Regions from separate parts of the Homo sapiens genome. Here region 2 is linked to region 1. A link means that fine-mapping ties the variant in region 1 to the plasma level of a protein whose gene starts in the linked region. Region 1 holds a variant in brackets. A gene starts in the other region. All regions are shown on their reverse strands. Region 1 overlaps ORM1 (orosomucoid 1). Region 2 holds the start of CLEC1A (C-type lectin domain family 1 member A).

Evidence for each region. A credible set is the group of variants that fine-mapping cannot tell apart. PIP is the posterior inclusion probability: the model's chance that the variant is causal. The UK Biobank Pharma Proteomics Project read protein levels with antibody pairs (Olink). The fine-mapping took linkage between variants from a reference panel, not from the people measured, so its PIPs are less certain.
Region 2: CLEC1A starts here. The variant in region 1 is the best candidate, but not a certain one, in a credible set for the plasma level of the CLEC1A protein (UK Biobank, PIP 0.88).

What each region holds. Positions count from the first base shown.
Region 1 is chr9:114,324,502-114,329,668 of GRCh38, reverse strand. It overlaps ORM1 (orosomucoid 1), which reads right to left. Exons shown (of 6, transcript NM_000607.4): 4 at 4,772-4,879; 5 at 4,517-4,620; 6 at 3,190-3,377. The coding sequence ends at 3,312. Among named protein-coding and RNA genes, the nearest start is that of ORM2, 2.8 kb to the left of the region's middle. The variant A/T (reference allele first, on the strand shown) is at 3,885.
Region 2 is chr12:10,093,071-10,107,626 of GRCh38, reverse strand. CLEC1A (C-type lectin domain family 1 member A) reads left to right here and starts at 8,642. Exons shown (of 6, transcript NM_016511.4): 1 at 8,642-8,819. The coding sequence starts at 8,705.

The DNA.
Region 1 (5,167 bases):
AGCCCTAGAGTATGGCTGCCCAAGGCCAAGGTGGGTGCGGGGCTGCAGCAACATTAGTAAACGTGTGAGTCCACAGATTTCCTAGAGAGGCCTCCCGCAGAGGAATCTCATGTCTTCATTCAATTCCTATCCCTCTGAGTGCCAAGACTTACTTCAGTAGGACCCAGCCACAAACCTAATGATGAAGCACCTTTGAGGGTCCCCAGGCTGGCATGGGATGTATGTTGTGGCGGGGAGAGTTGGGGTGAAGGATGCCGGGTGAAGGCAAACATGGATTCAGTTCCACTGAGTGTGGCAACAGCTATGTCAGAGCCAAAGTTCATTGGGGCCCCAACCCAGCCCTGGACGCAGGCACATTTCCAAAAAGGGACATCCAAGTTGAATGTCTATTTCCAGTAAATATACTACTCGAAGCATCTCCCAACATCTCAAACAGGAAACTGTCTCCCTGTTTTTCCCCATTCCCTGCCATCTGAGCAGGCAGCTTGCTTCTCTTTCACCAATATGCCCCCAATCCTGGAGCAGTGCCCAGCACTTCAAGGGCACTCGGTGTATACTGTGGAATGAGTGATTCCGTGGCCCATTTGCGTTCCTACCTTATGGGTCAAGTCTTTATTTGTATGAATAAATACTTTCAGAAAGTATTCTTTTTTTTTTTTTTCTCGGAGATGGAGTTTCGCCATTTTGCTCTTGTTGCCCAGGCTGGAGTGCAATGGCTCGATCTTGGCTCACCACAACCTCCCCTGCTGGTTTCAAGCAATTCTCTTGCCTCAGCCTCCCGAGTCGCTGGGATTACAGGTATGTGCTACCACGCCTGGCTAATTTTGTATTTTTAGGAGAGATGGGGTTTCTCCACGTTGGTCAGGCTGGTCTCGAACTCCCTACCTCAGGTGATCCGCCCACCTCGGCCTCCCACAGTGCTGGGATTACAAGCATGAGCCACCGCGCCTGGCCTTCCAGAGCGCCTTTCAACAGTGAACAGCAGCTGCTGTTTAGGGAGCACCAGCTGGACCCTGATTCTTACGCTAAACACTGGGCATTGTCTACTTCACACAGTCCCTGTACTAGCTCTCAGGACCCTCACTCTGCCCCCTTTTTACTGATGAGGAGAGTGAGGTTCCACTGGGCCATCTGCCCAAACTGGTTTGGGAGAGAGCCTGGGTTTGGACTCACATTAGTTTGACTCCAAAGTCCACATTCTTTGTTATGTGTGTTTTTTGCTTCCTCTACCTCCATGATTCTTTTTCTCTTGACCTCTGGTTTCTTCCTCACGTGGCTTTTCCTTCCATGTTCCCCACTTCTCGTCTCCCTTGCTTCTCCCTGCCCTGCCCATCACGACTCATTTCTGTTTCATTTTTCAGCGGATCCTCCTCAGTATGGTTGAAAATGGTGTCTTACTGAAAGTAACATTGAAATGGGGAAACTTCTTTTAGGTTCTGAGCCTTCAGTTCCAGGCCACTGTGGGACCCCAGAGGCTGTCCTGTCCACTTGCCTTCTGAGGACATCAGCTCGGTGTCCCCAGCCTCCGTGCTGTGGGCACAGCAGTGGTTTGGGTGCTGAGCAAAGGATGCTGTAGTCTTGGCCCTGTGGAGCTTGGCTGTTGGGACAGGAGGTACAAAGGGGAGTGGTGCCTGAGGACACAGGACTGGACCCTGGGGTGTCAGAGCCTCAGGCTCATGGTCTTATCACCCTGTATGGTGTACGCAGCTGCACATACGGAATAGATGGAACAACTCAGGCCCAACTTTTCTGCCACGGGAGGAGTGCTGCTTCCCTCACGTAACAAGAGGCTGTCAATCATGAGCCCCCAGGTCTGGGTGAGGCCGGCCCTTCGTGGCTTGTGCCACTGAGTGGGCTGTGCCTCGGGCTTGGCTCCACCTCAGGGCTCCACATTTGCAAGATGTCAACTGATTTCCAGGGACCAGCCTCACCCTTACGTGTTGTCTCCTTCTTCTGGGTCTCCCAGGTGAGCACCCTGAGGACACGTCCATGGAGACACCCAGCCCCTCTGGCCTGGGCCCCAAGCCCTCTGCATCACCCCAGCCCTTCCCTGCCCTGCCCTGTCCTGGCCCAGGCAACCGCCTCTTGCCTAGTTGCCCACAGCAGCCTTCACTCAGGCCTTCCTGCCTCCAGCCTGGTCCCCACAACGTGCCTCCCCCGATGGCCATGGTAATACTGGAATAAGGTCCTTGTGATAGGCACCACATGCCTGAACTCTCCCCACCCCATCCACCTTGTATTTGTCTGTTCTCACATTGCTATAAAGAACTACCTGAGACTGGGTAGTTTATGAAAAAAAGAGGTTTAATTGACTCACAGTTCCGCAGGCTTCAGAGGAAGCATGGCTGGGAGGCCTCAGGAAACTTACAATCATGGTGGAAGGCAAAGAGGAAGCAAGTCCCTTCTTCACAAGACAGCAGGAGAGACAGAGCGAAGGGGGAGGTGCTACACACTTTTAAACAATGAGACCTTGTGAGAAACAGCACCTGGGAGGTGGGGCTAAACCATTAGAAACCAGCCCCGTGATACAATCACCTCCCAGCAGGACCCGCCTCCAACACATGGGGCTGAAAATTCCATGTGAGATTCGGGTGGGGACAGAGCCAAACAATATCACACCTCCACTCCTGTTTAGGGTCTTCTGCCTCAAGGTTACTCAAATGCATCCTCTCATTTCCTTGCTTGCAGCAGAAACAGAAAAGGATTTTTTTTTATGACTAGTTGAAGTTTTATTACAATCTTGCTATTAGGAGAAAGGCCTTACAGTAGTCTCAGTTTAGAAATTCACATTTGTTTGCTTGTATTGTTTTAAATGGACACATAATGTACATATTTATGGGGAACTGTGTGATAATGTTCCCAACACAAAGAAATGGTAAATGTTTGAGGTGGTGGAAATGACCCCGATTTGATCATCACACATTGTACACAGAACAGCAGGTTGTATTATGCTCCTCATCTTTCTAGATTGGTTCAGATGCCCCTTCTAGGAAGCCTTCCCAGATTTTCGCCCTGCAGAAGAAAATGTCTTCCCACAGTGCTGGGCTCCCACAGCACTCGGTGCCTGTCATCCTCCATCCTGGCACGTGTGGGGCTCTTCCCACCAGGGACAGCGTCTTATCCAGTGCCCAGCCAGGGTTGAACTCAGGGCAGGCTTCAGAATGAATGAATGAACAAATGACTAACAGCTTAGCTGTTCCAAACACAGAAGCTTTATTGATGCAAGTGAGGGAAAAAGCTGAGGTACACATGTCGGGTTGGAGGGGCAGGATGGCCCCCAAGTCTCTGTCCTGATCCAAGGCTGTGTCCTGCTAGGATTCCCCCTCCTCCTGTTTCCTCTCCTTCTCGTGCTGCTTCTCCAGTGGCTCACACTTATCCTAGAAGGCAGCGGGGAATTGGGGTGAGGGAGAAGCAGAGGCATGGGGACAGGGTGGGAGGTCTTCCAGGGAGAGGGCAGAATGAGCTCTGGCCTGTGGAACCAGCTCAACCAGGGCTCCAACCCTGGCACTGTCACTTCCCAGCTGGGTGATCTTGGGCAAGTCATTTTCTGTCTCTGAACCTCAGCTTACTTGCCTCTACAATGGGAGCTCAGACTCTTAAGAATCACTGGCATTTACTGTGCACTTAGGACCTGCCGAGCCCTTATGCTGCAGCTCCTGAATTCCTCACAACCACCACTACTATGCAGATGATGTAACTGAGGAGCAGGGTGGCCTTGGGACCCATTCGAGGCTCCCTAGCCAGACAGTGGGGGTGCCAGGCTGTGGATCAGGTGAGCTGACTACAGTGGTTGTGTTCATAAGCCCTGTCCCAGGATCCTGGGACTGCAGATGGGGGCAGGAGGTAGTTCACACCACTGGTGGTCATCTCAGATGGCAAATGGA[A/T]GGAATTGTTTTTCTTTGAATAGTCATGGAAGTACTGCATGTATATATTTTAAAAATTGGAACCAGCTCATCGGTGCTGTGATTTCACAGGTATTGGGCACAGGGCCACACCAACGCAAGTCTTCCAAACACAGGTTTAAAGAAAAGTGTTAAGGAGCTCATTATAAAGTAATTTTCATTTGTAGCAAAAATCGGGATGGTGACTGTGGCCGTGCTGCAGTGTGGGTGACATTGAAAACCACAGTATCAATTCCCCACTGCACGGGTATTAAAAATGAGTGGGGAGTGGAGGTGGGGTGAAAGCCTGGGGTTTGGGACGCGTCTGTAGGTGGTAACTCCCCGCATTACGTCCCCTCCAATTGCCAATCCCCCAACCCCGTGGCTCACGCTGTTCCCTCCTGTTAGCTTTCAGGTCCTCCCTGGTTTCACAGGGACTTCTCCCTCCTGGGCTCTCATCCACCACCCCTGGGCCTCTGTAGAGCTCAGCTGTCCCTACAGTGAGGCAGGTGCCTAAAAGCAGAAGATCTGCCTAGCTGTGCAGCCTTGCCTGGCAGCTCTCCTGCTCTGGGCCTCTGGGGCTGCCCAAGTTGGGCCATGGACAAGGTGGGCACTGTCCAATCCCTTGCGTTTACCTTTTTCCAATCGGTGTACACGACATCTGACTTGGGAATGCGCAAGCAGTCGAGAGCTTCGTAGAACTCTCCCAGTTGCTCCTTGGTCGTCTCTGGCTTGTCAGCTGCAGGGGGAGCAAGGAGACTGACTGGGGACATGGTGGGGCCCGGCGGGAGGCCAGGGAGGGCTGGGGTTCTAGGGGCCAGCCCAGGGGTGGGTGAATGGGGGGTGAGGCCTGAGAGGGGCATGAGTTTGGGGCTGCTAAGCATGCCTACCATAGACAGACAGCCCCCAGTTCTTCTCATCGTTCACGTCAAAAGCAAGCATGTAGGTCTTGGTGTCCCTGAGGATCAGCAAGTGAGCGAAATGCTCTTGGCCTCCCACTGGAAGAGAAAAGGAGCCTCTGGGTGAGAACATGGGATGGCACAATGGTGTCTGTCTTACAGGTGAGGAGGCCTAGGTGTGTCAGTGGCCACACAGCCCATCAGTGAAGGCCCAGGGCTCCTTTGGGCCACCGTGTGCCCAGCCCCTGCTGCATGCCCAGCTCCACGCCAAGCACTTTCTGTACATGAGATCTCAGGAGCCTCACACAGACCGTGGCTGTCAGGGCCTTTCTCCGTTTTACAGATGAGGAAAATGAGGCCCAGAGAGGAGGCTCGGGATGCTAAATG
Region 2 (14,556 bases), not on the chromosome of region 1:
GGTTACTGTAGCCTTGTAGTATAGTTTGAAGTCAGGTAGCATCCACCTTTGTTCTTTTGGCTTAGGATTGACTAGGCAATGCGGGCTCTTTTTTGGTTCCATATGAACTTTAAAATAGTTTTTTTCCAATTCTGTGGAGAAAGTCATTGGTAGCTTAATGGGGATGGCATTGAATCTATAAATTACCTTGGGCAGTATGGCCATTTTCATGATATTGATTCTTCCTATCCATGAGCATGGCATGTTCTTCCATTTGTTTGTGTCCTCTTTTATTTCATTGAGCAGTGGTTTGTAGTTCTCCTTGAAGAGGTCCTTCATATCCCTTGTAAGTTGTATTCCTGGGTATTTTATTCTCTTTGTAGCAATTGTGAATGGGAGTTCACTCATGATTTGGCTTCTGTTTGTCTGTTATTGGTGTATAGGAATGCTTCTGATTTTTGCACATTGATTTTTTATCCTGAGACTTTTCTGAAGTTGCTTATCAGCTTGAGGAGATTTTCGGCTGAGACGATGGGGTTTTCTAAATATACAATCATGTCATCTGCAAAGAGGGACAATTTGACTTCCTCTTTTCCTAATTGAATACCCTTTATTTCTTTCTCCTGCCTGATTGTCCTGGCCAGAACTTCCAACACTATGTTGAATAGGAGTGGTGAGAGAAGGCATCCTTGTCTTGTGCCAGTTTTCAAAGGGAATGCTTCCTGTTGTTGCCCATTCAGTATGATGTTGGCTGTGGGTTTGTCATAAAAAGCTCTTATTATTTTGAGATACGTCCCATCAATATCTAGTTTATTGAGAGTTTTTAGCATGAAGGGCTGTTGAATTTTGTTGAAGGCCTTTTCTGCATCTATTGAGATCATCATATGGCTTTTGTCGATGGTTCTGTTTATGTGATGGATTATATTTATTGATCTGTGTATGTTGAACCAGCCTTGCATCCCAGGGATGAAGCCAACTTAATCGTGGTGGATAAGCTTTTTGATGTGCTGCTGGATTCAGTTTGACAGTATTTTATTGAGGATTTTTGCATCAGTGTTTATCAGGGATATTGGTCTAAAATTCTCTTTTTTTGTTGAGTCTCTGCCAGGCTTTGGCATCAGGATGATGTTGGCCTCATAAAATGAGTTAGGGAGGATTCCCTCTTTTTCTATTGATTGGAATAATTTCAGAAGGAATGGTACCAGCTTCTCTTTGTACGTCTTGTAGAATTCAGCTGTGAATCCGTCTGGTCCTGGACTTTTTTGGTTGGTGGGCTATTAATTATTGCCTCAATTTCAGAGCCTGTTATTGGTCTATTCAGAGATTCAATTTCTTCCTGGTTTAGTCTTGGGAGGGTGTATGTGTCCAGGAATGTATCCCTTTCTTCTAGATTTTCTAGTTTGTTTGCATAGAGGTGTTTATAGTATTCTCTGATGGTAGTTTGTATTTCGGTGGGATCGATGGTGATATCCGCTTTATCATTTTTTATTGCATCTATTTGATTCTTCTCTCTTTTCTTCTTTATTAGTCTTGCTAGCAGTCTATTGATTTTGTTGATCTTTTAAAAAAACCAGCTCCTGGATTCATTGATTTTTTGAAGGGTTTTTTGTGTCTCTGTCACCTTCAGTTCTGCTCTGATCTTAGTTATTTCTTGCCTTCTGCTAGCTTTTGAATGTGTTTACTCTTGCTTCTCTAGTTCTTTTAATTGTGTTGTTAGGGTGTCGATTTTAGATCTTTCCTGCTTTCTCTTGTGGGCATTTAGTGCTATAAATTTCCCTCTACACACTGCTTTGTGTCCCAGAGATTCTGGTACATTGTGTCTTTGTTCTCATTGGTTTCAAAGAACATCTTTATTTCTGCCTTCATTTCGTTATGTACCCAGGAGCCATTCAGGAGCAGGTTGTTGTTCAGTTTCCATGTAGTTGTGAGGTTTTGAGTGAGTTTCTTAATCCTGAGTTCTAATTTGATTGCACTGTGGTCTGACAGACAGTTTATTGTGATTTCTATTCTTTTACATTTGCTGAGGAGTGCTTTACTTCCAACTATGTGGTCAATTTTGGAATAAGTGCGATGTGGTGCTGAGAAGAACGTATATTCTGTTGATTTGGGTTGGAGAGTTCTGTAGATGTCTATTAGGTCTGCTTGGTGCAGAGCTGAGTTCAATTCCTGGATATTCTTGTTAACCTTCGGTCTCGTTGATCTGTCTAATATTGACAGTGGGGTGTGTGTTAAAGTCTCCCATTATTACTGTGTGGGAATCTAAGTCTCTTTGTACATCTCTAAGGACTTGCTTTATGAATCTGGGTGCTCCTGTATTGGGTGCATATATATTTAGGATAGTTAGCTCTACTTGTTGAATTGATCCCTTTACCATTATGTAATGGCCTTCTTTGTCTCTTTTGATCTTTGTTGGTTTAAAGTCTGTTTTATCAGAGACTAGGATTGCAACCCCTGCTTTTTTTTTGCTTTCCATTTCCTTGGTATATCTTCCTCCATGCCTTTATTTTGAGCTACTCCTGCTCACACTTGGTTTTCATTTGCATGAAATATTGTTTTCTACCCCTTTACCTTGAATTTATATGAGTCCTTACATGTTAGATGAGTCTCTTGAAGATGGCAGATATTTGGTTTGTAATTTTTAAAACTGATTCTGCCAATCAGTTTCTTTTAAGTGGAGCATTTAGGCCATTTATGTTCAATGTTAATATTGAGATGTGAGGTACTGTTGTACTCATATTAATTGTTACCTAGATACTTTGTGTTTTTCATTGTGTTGTTGTTTGATAGGCCTTGCGAGTTTTATGCTTTCAAGAGGTTCTATTTTGGTGCATATTGAGCTTTGTTTCAAGATTTAGAACTCCTTTTCACATTTCTTTTTTCTTTTTTTTTTTGAGACGGAGTCTCACTTTGTTGCCCAGGCTGGAGTGCAGTGGTGCGATCTTGGCTCACTGCAACCTCCAGCTCCCTGGTTCAAGCAATTCTCCTGTCTCAGCCTCCCGAGTAGCTGGGACTACAGGTGCCCACCACCATGTCTGGCTAATTTTTTATTTTCTTTTTTCTTTTTTTTGAGATGGACTTTTCCCTCTTGTTGCCCAGGCTGGAGTGCAATGGCATGGTCTTGGCTCACCACAACCTCCACCTCCTGGGTTCAAGTGATCCTCCTGCCTCAGCCTCCCAAGTAGTGGGGATTACAGGCACCCACCACCACGCCCAGCTAATTTTGTATTTTTAGTAGAAATGGGTTTTCACCATGTTGACCAGGTTGGTCTCAAACCCTTGACCTCAGGTGATCCTCCTGCCCTGGCCTCCCAAAGTGCTGGGATTATAGGCATGAGCCACCAGGCCTAGCTTATTTTTGTATTTTTAGTAGAGATGAGGTCTCACCATATTAGCCAGGCTGGTCTCGAACTCCTGACCTTGTGATCCTCCTACCTTGGCCTCCCAAAGTGCTGGGATTACAGGCATCAGCCAAAACACCCAGCCCTTTTCACATTTCTTGTAATGCTGGTTTGGTAGCACTACAAATTCTCTCAGCATTTGTTTGTCTGAAAATGACTTTATCTCTCTTTCATTTCATTTTATCTCTCTTTCATTTAGTTTTGCTGGATACAACATTCTTGACTGACAGTTACTCTGTTTAAGGCAGCTAAAGATAGAGTCCCAATTCCTTTGGGCTTATAAGGTTTCTGTTGAGAAGTCTGCTGTTAGTCTGATAGGTTTTCCTTTATAGGTGACCTGATGCTTTTTGTCTGACTGCTCTTAGATTTCTTTTCTACATGTTGACTTTAGATGGCCTGACGACTATGCCTTCGTGGTGATCTTTTTGCAATGAGTTTCTCAGGAGTTCTTTGAGCTTCCCAGATTTGGGTATCTAAATCTCCAGCAAGGCCAGGGAAGTTTTCCTCAATTATTCCTTCAAATAAGTTTTCCAAACTTTTTGTTTTCTCTTCTTCCCTCAGGAACACCAATTATTCTTAGGTTTGGCTGTTTTACATACTATCATATTTCTTGGAGACTTCATTTACTTGATTCTTTTTTCTTCATTTTTGTCTGATTGGCTTAATTTGAAAGCCTCGTCTTTGAATTCTGAAATTCTTTCTTCTACTTGTTCTAGTCTATCGTTAATACTTTCCACTGCATTTTGTAATTCCCTAAATGTGCCTTTCATTTCCAGACGTTCCTTTTTTATGATATTTAGCTCTCTAGAAAATTTTTCATTTATAATCTGAATTTTTTAAAAAAATTCTTTATGTTGGTTTTCACCTTTCTCTGGTATCTCCTTGAGTAGCTCTTATACAACATTCTGAATTTTTCATTTGGTATTTCTAAGATTTTATCTTAGTTTGGCTTCATTGCTTGAGAGCTAATGTGATCTTTTGGGAGGTGTTATAGAACCCCATTTTATCATATTAACAGAATTACTTTTCCGGTTCTTCCTCATCTGGGTAGACTATTTCTTCTAATTATTCTTAAATTTATTTTTGATTTGACTGTGTGATTTTATTTCTTATTTTCCTTCTTAAGAATTTGACTTTAATGTTTATAGTTTGTTATAGCCTAATTTGGTTCTTGGTGCTTTTAGGGGTGAAAATTCTGTATGATTTCCTTGGTTATAGAGAAACTTTGTATGATGGCTTTCTCAGATGCTAGACATAGTAGTAATGTGCTGAATGTGTGAGCAAACTTACTGTCTCTGGAAGCTTATCTCATTCCAATGTGGTATGCACTTTTAAATTTATTTACTTTGCTCCAGTATTTTATTCACTGGGTTGATGGTTCAGGCTTCAGGCCAGTAGTGGAGGTGTTCCTAGGTAGGAACCAGTTGTGGCTAAAGAAGGTGGGTAAATGCAATACCCAATGGTGGGCAGAGGTCTCAGCCTTGACAAAAGGGGCTGGGGGAGCTGTCAGGGAGACACACTGAAGTCTTATCAGGGGAAGGGTGGTAGCCACCTTAGCTCCCCTGTCAGGTCAGCTGGGAAGCTATCCATCTCCCAGACTCACATCTGTCCCAATATTCTGGCTATTCAGATCAGACAGGCCTCTCTTTTCATCTGCTGGAATGTTAGTGCTCCAAGTAGAGAACTGTGACTCTGCCTCTTATGTAAGCCTGAAACTGGAGGGTTGCTTCCCCTGTGGGGTTGCGGTCACCCTGAAGTGTTCTACAAAGTCTGTCTATGGGTGCACCCATGCTGAGCTCTTGTGGGAGAAGACCCAGCTGTGTCTGCAGTGGTGGACGAGGTTGGTAAGAAGTCCCCTTCTCCAAGATCCTTGATAAGCACCAGGGCTGTCTGACTGTTGGGACAGCTGTAGACATTCCCTGCTGAGCCCAGCACTTCAATTCTGCCTCTATTGAAAGAAACTTCCCACCAGTGGAACAATCTAATCCTTAAGACCTGCCATCTGGATTCTTTATTCACACAGGGTGTTCCCTTGATGTGGCACACTCTCCCTTTCCTTAGGAGTAGAAGTTCCTGAGAGACAGACTACTATGAGTGCTGCTGCTCCTCAGGGTCTAGCCACTCAGTGGCTCCAGACTAGTGCTGGGGGATGTCTGCTAAGGATCCAGTGATATGACCTGTCCTCCAGTTTTCCAGCAGCTGTTATCAGCACCAGGTCTGATGGGGGTGCCAGAGGCGTGACATAGACCTGTGAGATTCCTTGATTATAGATAACTTTAGTGTGTTGTCTTTCTTGAATGCTAGTTCAGGTAGTAATAAACTGGTCATGTGGATAGACTCAGGACCTCCTGGTTAGACAGGGTAGTGCAGGAAGTGGTAATAGCTGAGGTCACACAGTAGTTTTGTCCTTCTTGAGTGCAGTGTTATTCCACCTACAGATGCTGCAATGGACTGTGTTGGTAGGCTTCCAGCTACTGGGTGGCATTTGCAAAAGAGTATCAGGTGTGGTAGTAGCAGTGGGATTTGTGCTTGCCTTATGTTGCCCAGGGTAGGTAGTCTGGCTTCTCAGGTGATGGATGGGGCTATAAATCTCCCCAGGGTTTCTGTCCTTTGTATTAAGCTACCACGGTGGGTGGAGGGGCAAAGCCAGATGAGGGCTGTGTTAGGTGGGTCTGCACTCTGAGTCACCATGTGCATGGCAAGCAGCGGCCCCTTTTGGAGATGTGGTTGCACAGGGAGTGGGGAGTAGTAGGCAGCAGTAAGCCTAACCCAGATGTCACACAGTTGGCAAGGCAGATCTGGCTCCTGCAGTACTCTGCTAGCAGCAGTGAGCTAAGTTCCAGGCAGTCTGCACTCAGAGCTCACAACTGCCTGAGGCCATAAACTTTTCCCGTGGTGATAGCAACTGCTGGCGTTCAGGCCATGCCCCTCTCTGTCCACCCACACAGCTGGCACCCAGATCCTGCACTCACGGCTGCAACACATTTCCCACTCACCTTTCTGGTTCTGGCCAAGGGAGTTCATTTCACTTGAGGTTATATTGTGAATTTCAGTTGGGAGTTTTTACAATGTGCAACCCCTGGCTGAGCTAGTTGGCTGAGTTCCGTGAGGTTGTCTGTGAGGCATAAGGAATAGTTTCCCTTGGCTCATGCTGGAGACTGGGAATGCACACAAGCCTCTTCCTGCTGCTGCTCTTACTTTTATATTCATCACTGCTCTTTTAATTGGTTCCAGTGCTGGGACGGGTTAAGGCCTTCCCCCATGGCATGGACTTTCAGGTTCCCCTGTGGGGGTATGTATCCTGGAGCCAGTCTCTTCACCTCACACACCCTGGGAGCTTACAGTTTTTCACCTAGCTCATGGTGTAGGTATAACCTGCTGCTTCTTTCAAAGAGTCTGTGGATTCTTTCAGTTTTCCTGTTCAGTTCCTGTGTTGCTTCTTGGGAAAAGAGTTCACAGTGAGAAGGTTTTTTTTTTTTTTTTTTTTTTTCAGATGGAGTCTCGCTCTGTTGCCCAGGCTGGAGTGCAGTGGTGTGATCTTGGCTCACTGCAACCTCCGCCTCCCGGATTCAAGTGATTCTCCTACCTCAGCCTCCCCAGTAGCTGGTATTATAGGCACCCGCCACCACGCCCGGCTAATTTTCATATTTTCAGTAGAAACGGGGTTTTGCCATGTTGGTCAGGCTGGTCTCGAACTCCTGACCTCAGGTGATCCACCCACCTCAGCCTCCCAAAGTGCTGGGATTAAAGGCGTGACCACCATGGCTGGCCCACAGTGAGAATTTTTTACTCACTATTTTGTCCTTCCAAGTGGTAGAGTCATGCTAACACTGCCTCCAATCTGCCATCTAAAAAAAAAAAAATTCCAATTTTTAAAAAATTTAGAATAATTTGATGAACAACAAACAGCTTGAAACACATGTGAATCCACAATGTGCACTTCCTCATAGATCTTTTATATGGTCTGGCTACCCCAACTGGAGCATTCTGACACTCCTTTATATTTAGCATGCTTGATTTTGCCCACCTATCACCTAACATCTGGAAAAGTTTTGGTAGAGTAATATAAGTCTATTGTACAGATTCAGGAAGAACTTTTAGACATTATCTAAAACAATCTTCTTGTCTTTCAGTTTAGGAAATGTAGATGCAAATTGTTAATTGTCCTCCCAAAGGCACAAGGTTGTTACTGATACCTGTCTTGTTATGGTTTGAATGTGTTTCCTGCAGAATTCAGGTGTTGCCAGTGTGGTAGTATTGAGAGAGGTGGGGCCTTTAAGAGATGATTAGTCCTTGAAGTCTTCTCTCTTGAGGATGGTATTAAGGCCTTTATAAAAGACGCTACATGTAGCATTTGGCTGGCTTGACCTTCTGCTTTCTGCCACGTGAGAATACCCTTCCTCCTCTACAGAGAGTGCAGCTCTCACCTGACATCCAAACCTGCCAGTGCCTTGATCTTAGATTTCCCACCTTCTGGAATGCTGAGAAATACATTTCTATTGCTTATAATTTATCTGGTCTCAGGTATCCTGTTGTAGGTCAGCACAAACAGACTAAGATGGGAATATAATTCTAATGTACTGATTCAGGAAGAATTTTTTCACATTACCTAAAACATTTTCTTCTCAGTTTAGGAGATTTAGGCACAAATGAACTGGCTTCCCCAAACCACATGGTGGTTAGTAATAGTTTTAAAAGTTTTTACTTCCAGTAAATTGTATAATTCCTCGTGATCATAATGTACCAAATGTGCTATAAAATGTTGAATCAAGTTCAGATACTATAAGAAAGACCACTACTCTGTTCTTGGAGAAAGGAAGGGGCTAGGTCCTATAATCTCTTCTCTTTTCACAAAGACACAGAGAGGTTAAACTAAGTGACTCCCTAAAGGATGGGTAAGAAACAGGGATGTGTGTCCTTCCAAGTTATTATTATTCTGCAGACTCTGAAGGAACCACAGTGCTACACCGTGCTATTGTAAGTTCTTGCCTTCTTTACAGTGAAGTTACATGAGAAATGCAAACAGGTAAACAAAAAAGACCTGAGAAAGGCCAACTTTTTGACAACTGTTTAGACTGAGACGGCCTAAACAGAAAACACATGCTATTTCCCCTCAGCCTGACTGATTTGGCATTCAGAGTACAAGCTCACAGGAGAGGGGCTGGGCCTGTCCAGTCAGGAATTGCAGTCAGAGACTTTCCCTGCCCCTCGCTGGGAAAGAACATTAGGAATGCCTTTTAGTGCCTTGCTTCCTGAACTAGCTCACAGTAGCCCGGCGGCCCAGGGCAATCCGACCACATTTCACTCTCACCGCTGTAGGAATCCAGATGCAGGCCAAGTACAGCAGCACGAGGGACATGCTGGATGATGATGGGGACACCACCATGAGCCTGCATTCTCAAGGCTCTGCCACAACTCGGCATCCAGAGCCCCGGCGCACAGGTACCCTGTCTCCTGGAGTCCAAATAGACCACAGTCCTTGTGAAATGTGTGAGATGATCTATCCCTCCTAGAAATGGAGATATTTAGCTTGCATCTTATAATTTTATTTCCAATTACTCGCCCTGTGACATAGTAGTGATTTTTTTTTTTCAGTTATATTCAGTTCCATAATTCCCACACTTAGAGAAGGATTTTATTTCCTGGGCCACTCAGCCAATCTAAAGCTAAAATATGACTTCAGTTCTAGTGAAAAGGACTCACATGGTAATATACACAGGACTAGGTTCTAGGTCCTAAACCAGGTATGCCACTTTCCTTCTGTGTAACTTTGGATGAGTTGTTTAAGTATCCTGGTAGCATCATATTCTTTATTTATAAAATATTAACGGCCACAAACATGTATAAAGGGCTCATTATGTGCTGGCAGTGTTTTAAATACTTTAAGTATATTAATTCATATTAACTTGACTTAATATTAAATAGAAGTAATAAAACTTCCTTTACAAGGTGGTTGTGAGTACTGAGAATGATAAATTATGTAAAATATTTGAATGTCTGTCTGATCTGATATAGACTGACACAAAATTGCTGAAAGGAACACTTTAGGTTCTTAAGAAATGGAATGTTGAAAGGAATCCCACATTTTAACATTCATTCAGTGCCTGTGTTTTAATATGCCCTTTCCCTTCTGATTATATCATTGTTTTCTTCACCTTTGTAAATCTGGATATACCTTTAAAAAAAAAAAACTATCCTGTTCCTTATTTCTTTATCAAATAACTTTTAGTTTTCCTTCCTTTCTCCTACTAAACCCTCCATTCACTTTCTATTTATTTCTATTTATTAAATGACCCTCCACCTGAAACCTACTAATATGGCTTTTTTTTTTTTTAACTAAACTACCCAGTAAGCTGTTAAGGGACATTGGGGATTTCCAACCTCTTTGAAATGAAGCTAAGTGACAAAAGTAGGGATGTCAGCTTTTGTAGCCACAGGATATGTGTAATAGGATACAAAGCGTTTTCCTCCAAAAAAACTTACGAAGAGTCCATTTTTACGGCTGTGGTTTTGAGTAGCTTGTATATAACTTCATTTTCCACCTTTGACTGGAGCCAGGAACTCTGTCAAGGACTAGAGATCAGCATAATTAAGAACAGCATGTACAAATAAGTTCTGCTGAGGTTGAAGGGTGGAGAGGGAGGTGGAGCAAGATAAAACACTAGCTGCAACATCTGGGAGCTTCTTTGTAAGAAATGGATATTGAAACAGTAGAAGTGGAGATTACAAAGAATTGTCTTGGAAGAAATCATCTGGAAATAGTTATCTTAGGCAACATATATGAGATCTTGTTTTCATCTTTTTATGGTAATACAAACATTTAGGGGAATACCATCATAGAAGTATAATTATTTCTTAGATAAACATATCTGATATACCTTCGCTGATAAAAATAACAGCAGAAATCACTCAGAAATTTTCGGCAATGTGGAGGATTCAGATTCAACATAATGATGTGATACCATTAAGAGCTGGCAACTTTTATTTTTTAGAATTAATAAAAATAAATCACACACACATTCATTTAATTTCTAGACTTTTGTCAATAACAATTGACGTAACAACTATGTTTGTGTTTAAAAATGCCAAACAATTAAGATAGTAAAAATGCCAAACAATTAAGATAGTGAAAATGAAAAACAACAACCTCATACATTTTTCACAAACTTATGTTTGGGGTCATGTTATCCTAGTACTGAGGATATAATGTCCAATGTGATATGGTCCCTGTTCATAAGGAAATTGAAAGTCTAATACAATTCTCAACTAAGGAGTAAGTATAATAAGGTGTTATGGCAGAAGCATGTACAGTACAGCCGAGAGCTTAACCAAGCTCTCGGCTTAATTTTTACCTAATTAAGTAGAGGAGTTCAGGAAAGGCTTAACAGAAGGAGCAACTGTGGAGTTGAGTTAATTTTAACATCTTCCACATAATAAGGAATCGGGAGTGAGGGTGTTTGAGAGGCTGGGGACACTATAGACAGAGAGACGTATGAAGGGAAAGTCATGAAGGTTTTCAGTAGCTTTGTATTTTTAGAGAACTATAAGCAATATGTATGGCGTAGGTGTAGAGTTGGAGGAGGGAAACTTAGCAAAGGGGTAAGTCTGGCAAGTTAAGGAGGGATTTTAGGGCATGCTGATCTAGTTTAATTCTATTCAATAGTTAAAATGAAGTCAATGCAGGATTTAGATAGGGAGAAACAAAATTTTGCATTTTGGAAAGACCTTCCTGGCTGCAATGGAAATGATAAGTTGAAGGTATATGAAACTGCATGTGCTGATACCAAATTTTTCCACTAGTCCAGTACAAGGGTAGAAAAACCTGAACTGAGGCAGTATAGTAAAAATAAGGAAAAAGAATCAGATATGAAAGATGTCGAGGTGTTGGAGTTTAGATAATCGGTGATTGGTTACATGTGAGGAGACAAGGAAAGGGACTTCGGTGGTAGGTTGACTAGGTTCTGTTTGATGTAATGTAGATGGTGCTGATGTTAACTGAGACAGAAACTATAGAAGGGACAGGAAAGATGATGAATTGAGTTTGAGTTTAAGGGGTCTGCAGAAGGAGGGACATGCATTTGGAGCTGTCCAAAGACACCCGTATATGCAGGATGTGGGTTGGGCTACATAGACATGTGGGAATTACTGGCATAGTAATTAAATAAATAAAGTAAATGAGGTACCTAAGTCATTAAGTCAAATAAATGGCTAGTAACTAAAATGTATGAGAGTGAGTGAGATCACTGAGGGAAGGAATGTAAAATGAAAACATGAATGAACAGAAGAGAGTGTCAAGGAGATAATCTGAGGGAATATCAACACCTGAGGAGCAAGAAGAATGAAAGATTCCAAAAGGAGCTACCAGGGATGAATAGCAGAGAGTGGTAGAAGCAGGAGTCTTGGAGAGAGACAACAAGGGCATCAAGAGACAATAAATTCAAGAGTAATGGAAAATTAGAGTAATGGAAGGACAATAAATTCAAGAGTTTTAGAAAAGTCAATGATAATGACTGTGAGTTTTAAAAACAACAAATAACAAATACTGCAGAGAGTTTAAGCGAAAGGAAGACTAAAATGATTATTTAACAATTTATCAATAAGGAGGAAAATATTTAGTTTTGACAGCAGTGGTTTGAAAAGGAACTGATGGTTACATAATAAAATAAACAATTTAAGTCATTTTCTCTTTTTCTTTCTCTCTTTTTTTTTGAAGATAAAATGGGTTATTGCTGAGGTATTACAGCATTGGGTGACAGATTTTAAGAATGATTTTTTAAGATGTGGGAAATTCTAACTCAATTGTAGATTGAAAATAAGTTCAGGGAGAGAACTTCACATTAACAGTACAGTAAGAGGAGAGAGGATGAAATAACTGACAGGCTGAGATTCCTGCCAGAGACTAAATTTTATCCTATCAAAAGAATATGAAAAATTACTTTGGTTAAATAATTTTAAAAAATTTAATAATAAATTCAAGTTCCTCTTTTCCCTTGTTCACATTAATTACAGTACTATTGAATTTCCCAGCGTTTTAGTTTTATTTCCTCAATTACAGCATAAATCCCTCATCACAGTCATGACATAAATCGCTGTTAACTGATTCAACAACTCTTTAAATCAAACCTACTAATGACAAGACATTATGGGATGTACTAGAGGAGCCTCTTTTTCAGGTGCTTAGAGAAGTGGAAGGAATACTCTAAATCAATAGTTGTAGTAAATGTCATTTAGTGCTATTAAATCAATGTTGGAGGCCGCAGAAGCAATATAGGAATGAATGAGTTACTGATTGAGTTTAGTTTTGCGAGTTCCCAGAGGAAGTGACATGATCTGGACCCATGAGGCTAAGAAGTAAAATGGGATCCTATTAGGAGGAGCCTGATACAGTACACTAAGAAACTGACTAAAACAGAAAGAGCCTTGGGAAACTTCTTCCTATGGAAGAGAGGAAGTATGATTAAATTTATGCTTTCAGAATTCATCTTGCTGGCAGAGTGGACATTTCATAATGTAGAAGGGAAAAGTTGCAAGCTGCTGTCATTCTATGATTCCAGATGCACTGCCATGTATAAATATTGATCTGAGATGTGTTGGGAGGATAGGAAGATGATTGAAAATGTCCAGCTCTGGAATCAGTCAGCTTGGGTAGCTCTGTGCAACTTAGTGACTTAGGCAACTTAAGTGACTCCTTGGTAATTCAATTTTTGTAAAGGTTGCTTCCAGTGAAATAATGTGTATCTAGAACACACTTATGGTTACTATTAATAACTATTTCTCTCTCTCTCTTTTTCAATACTCTCCATCCAATCATTCTATATAAAGACATGGAGAAACACAATCCTGGGGAGTTACTAATAGTTCATTAGTAACTATTGCTAATAGTAGCTGTGTGTTCCTGAATAAGCTGTCTAAACCTGCTAGGCCTCAGTTCCCTACCTGTAAAATGAGATAATAATATCTACCTTATAGGGGGTGTTTGTGAGGCTAGATGAGAACATTCATATAAGACATTTTTCTCAGTAACTCAAGAAATTTGAGCAATTATCATTAATGGTAATGTTGTTTTTGAATTATATTTCAGTAAATAATATCTGTTGATGGGGATATAAAATTGAGTCACCTAACTTTTACTGAAGATGAAAAATATAATTAAATTTCTAAATACTGTGAATTAGAACCTCAATGATATTCTAGAAATAGCTCATATGTTTTTAGATGTATACTCTTTTCAAATAATAGGAAGGATAACACAGATTTTCATTTAGAGAGTATGAAAATAGCAATATTTGAAATAGATTCATAAGAGAAAAGAAACCTGCATTTACATGAACACAGAAAAGCAGACTCAACCCGTGAACTCAGATTCCCATGAGGAAGTTTCCTATGTGCCATATGTGAGGATTAAGGAAACAAAGACGTTTACATTTCAAAATACAAAGGGATGAAAAAGTGCTTTCTGAAATATTATGTACATTGCCACCAGTTTTGCCCCCATGTCTCTGTGATTCCTGACTGGCTCATGGAAAAGTGTGCAGAGTATAGCGTTAAACATAATTTAATCCTAGCTCTGCAACTAGTTTGTAACATGCACATTATTTAAACTCTCGGTGTCTTCTCCAGCTTTTAAGACCTTTTGCATTTCATAGGTATACTAATAGACTGTATATGGTAATGTCAGCTTAGTTTCTTGGGTGGAAAACAAAATTTTCCCTCTCTGATGCCTGATGAAGGGTAACTGGTTAAGTCTGACAACTCTCCACCCACAAAGTTTCATATAATTACACAGTAATTGGTATCCAAAATTTGACCCTAGCACTAAGGCCTTTTATAGTATGGTTAATACTAAGAGGATACAGGAAAGGTTTTTTTTTTTTTTCTATATATATCTTATTATTCCTAGGGATGTTTATATCATTCCTTGGCCTGTCCACACCCCTTTCTAAACATGCCTCAGGAGACAGCAAAGGGGTTCTCTTCCAAAAAATAAAACCACAATAAAGCCAAACCAAACTCAAGCGACCTCCTAGGCATCTTATTTTTGTGAAAATCTGTCTCATGTTAGGGTGAGGGTGATCCCTGGAGAGAGACTTCAGTATGATTAGGAGCACTTGGAATAAAACTGAGAAACATTAGACTCACAGTTAGAAGAAAAACATCTAGAAGGAAAAATAGTATCAAA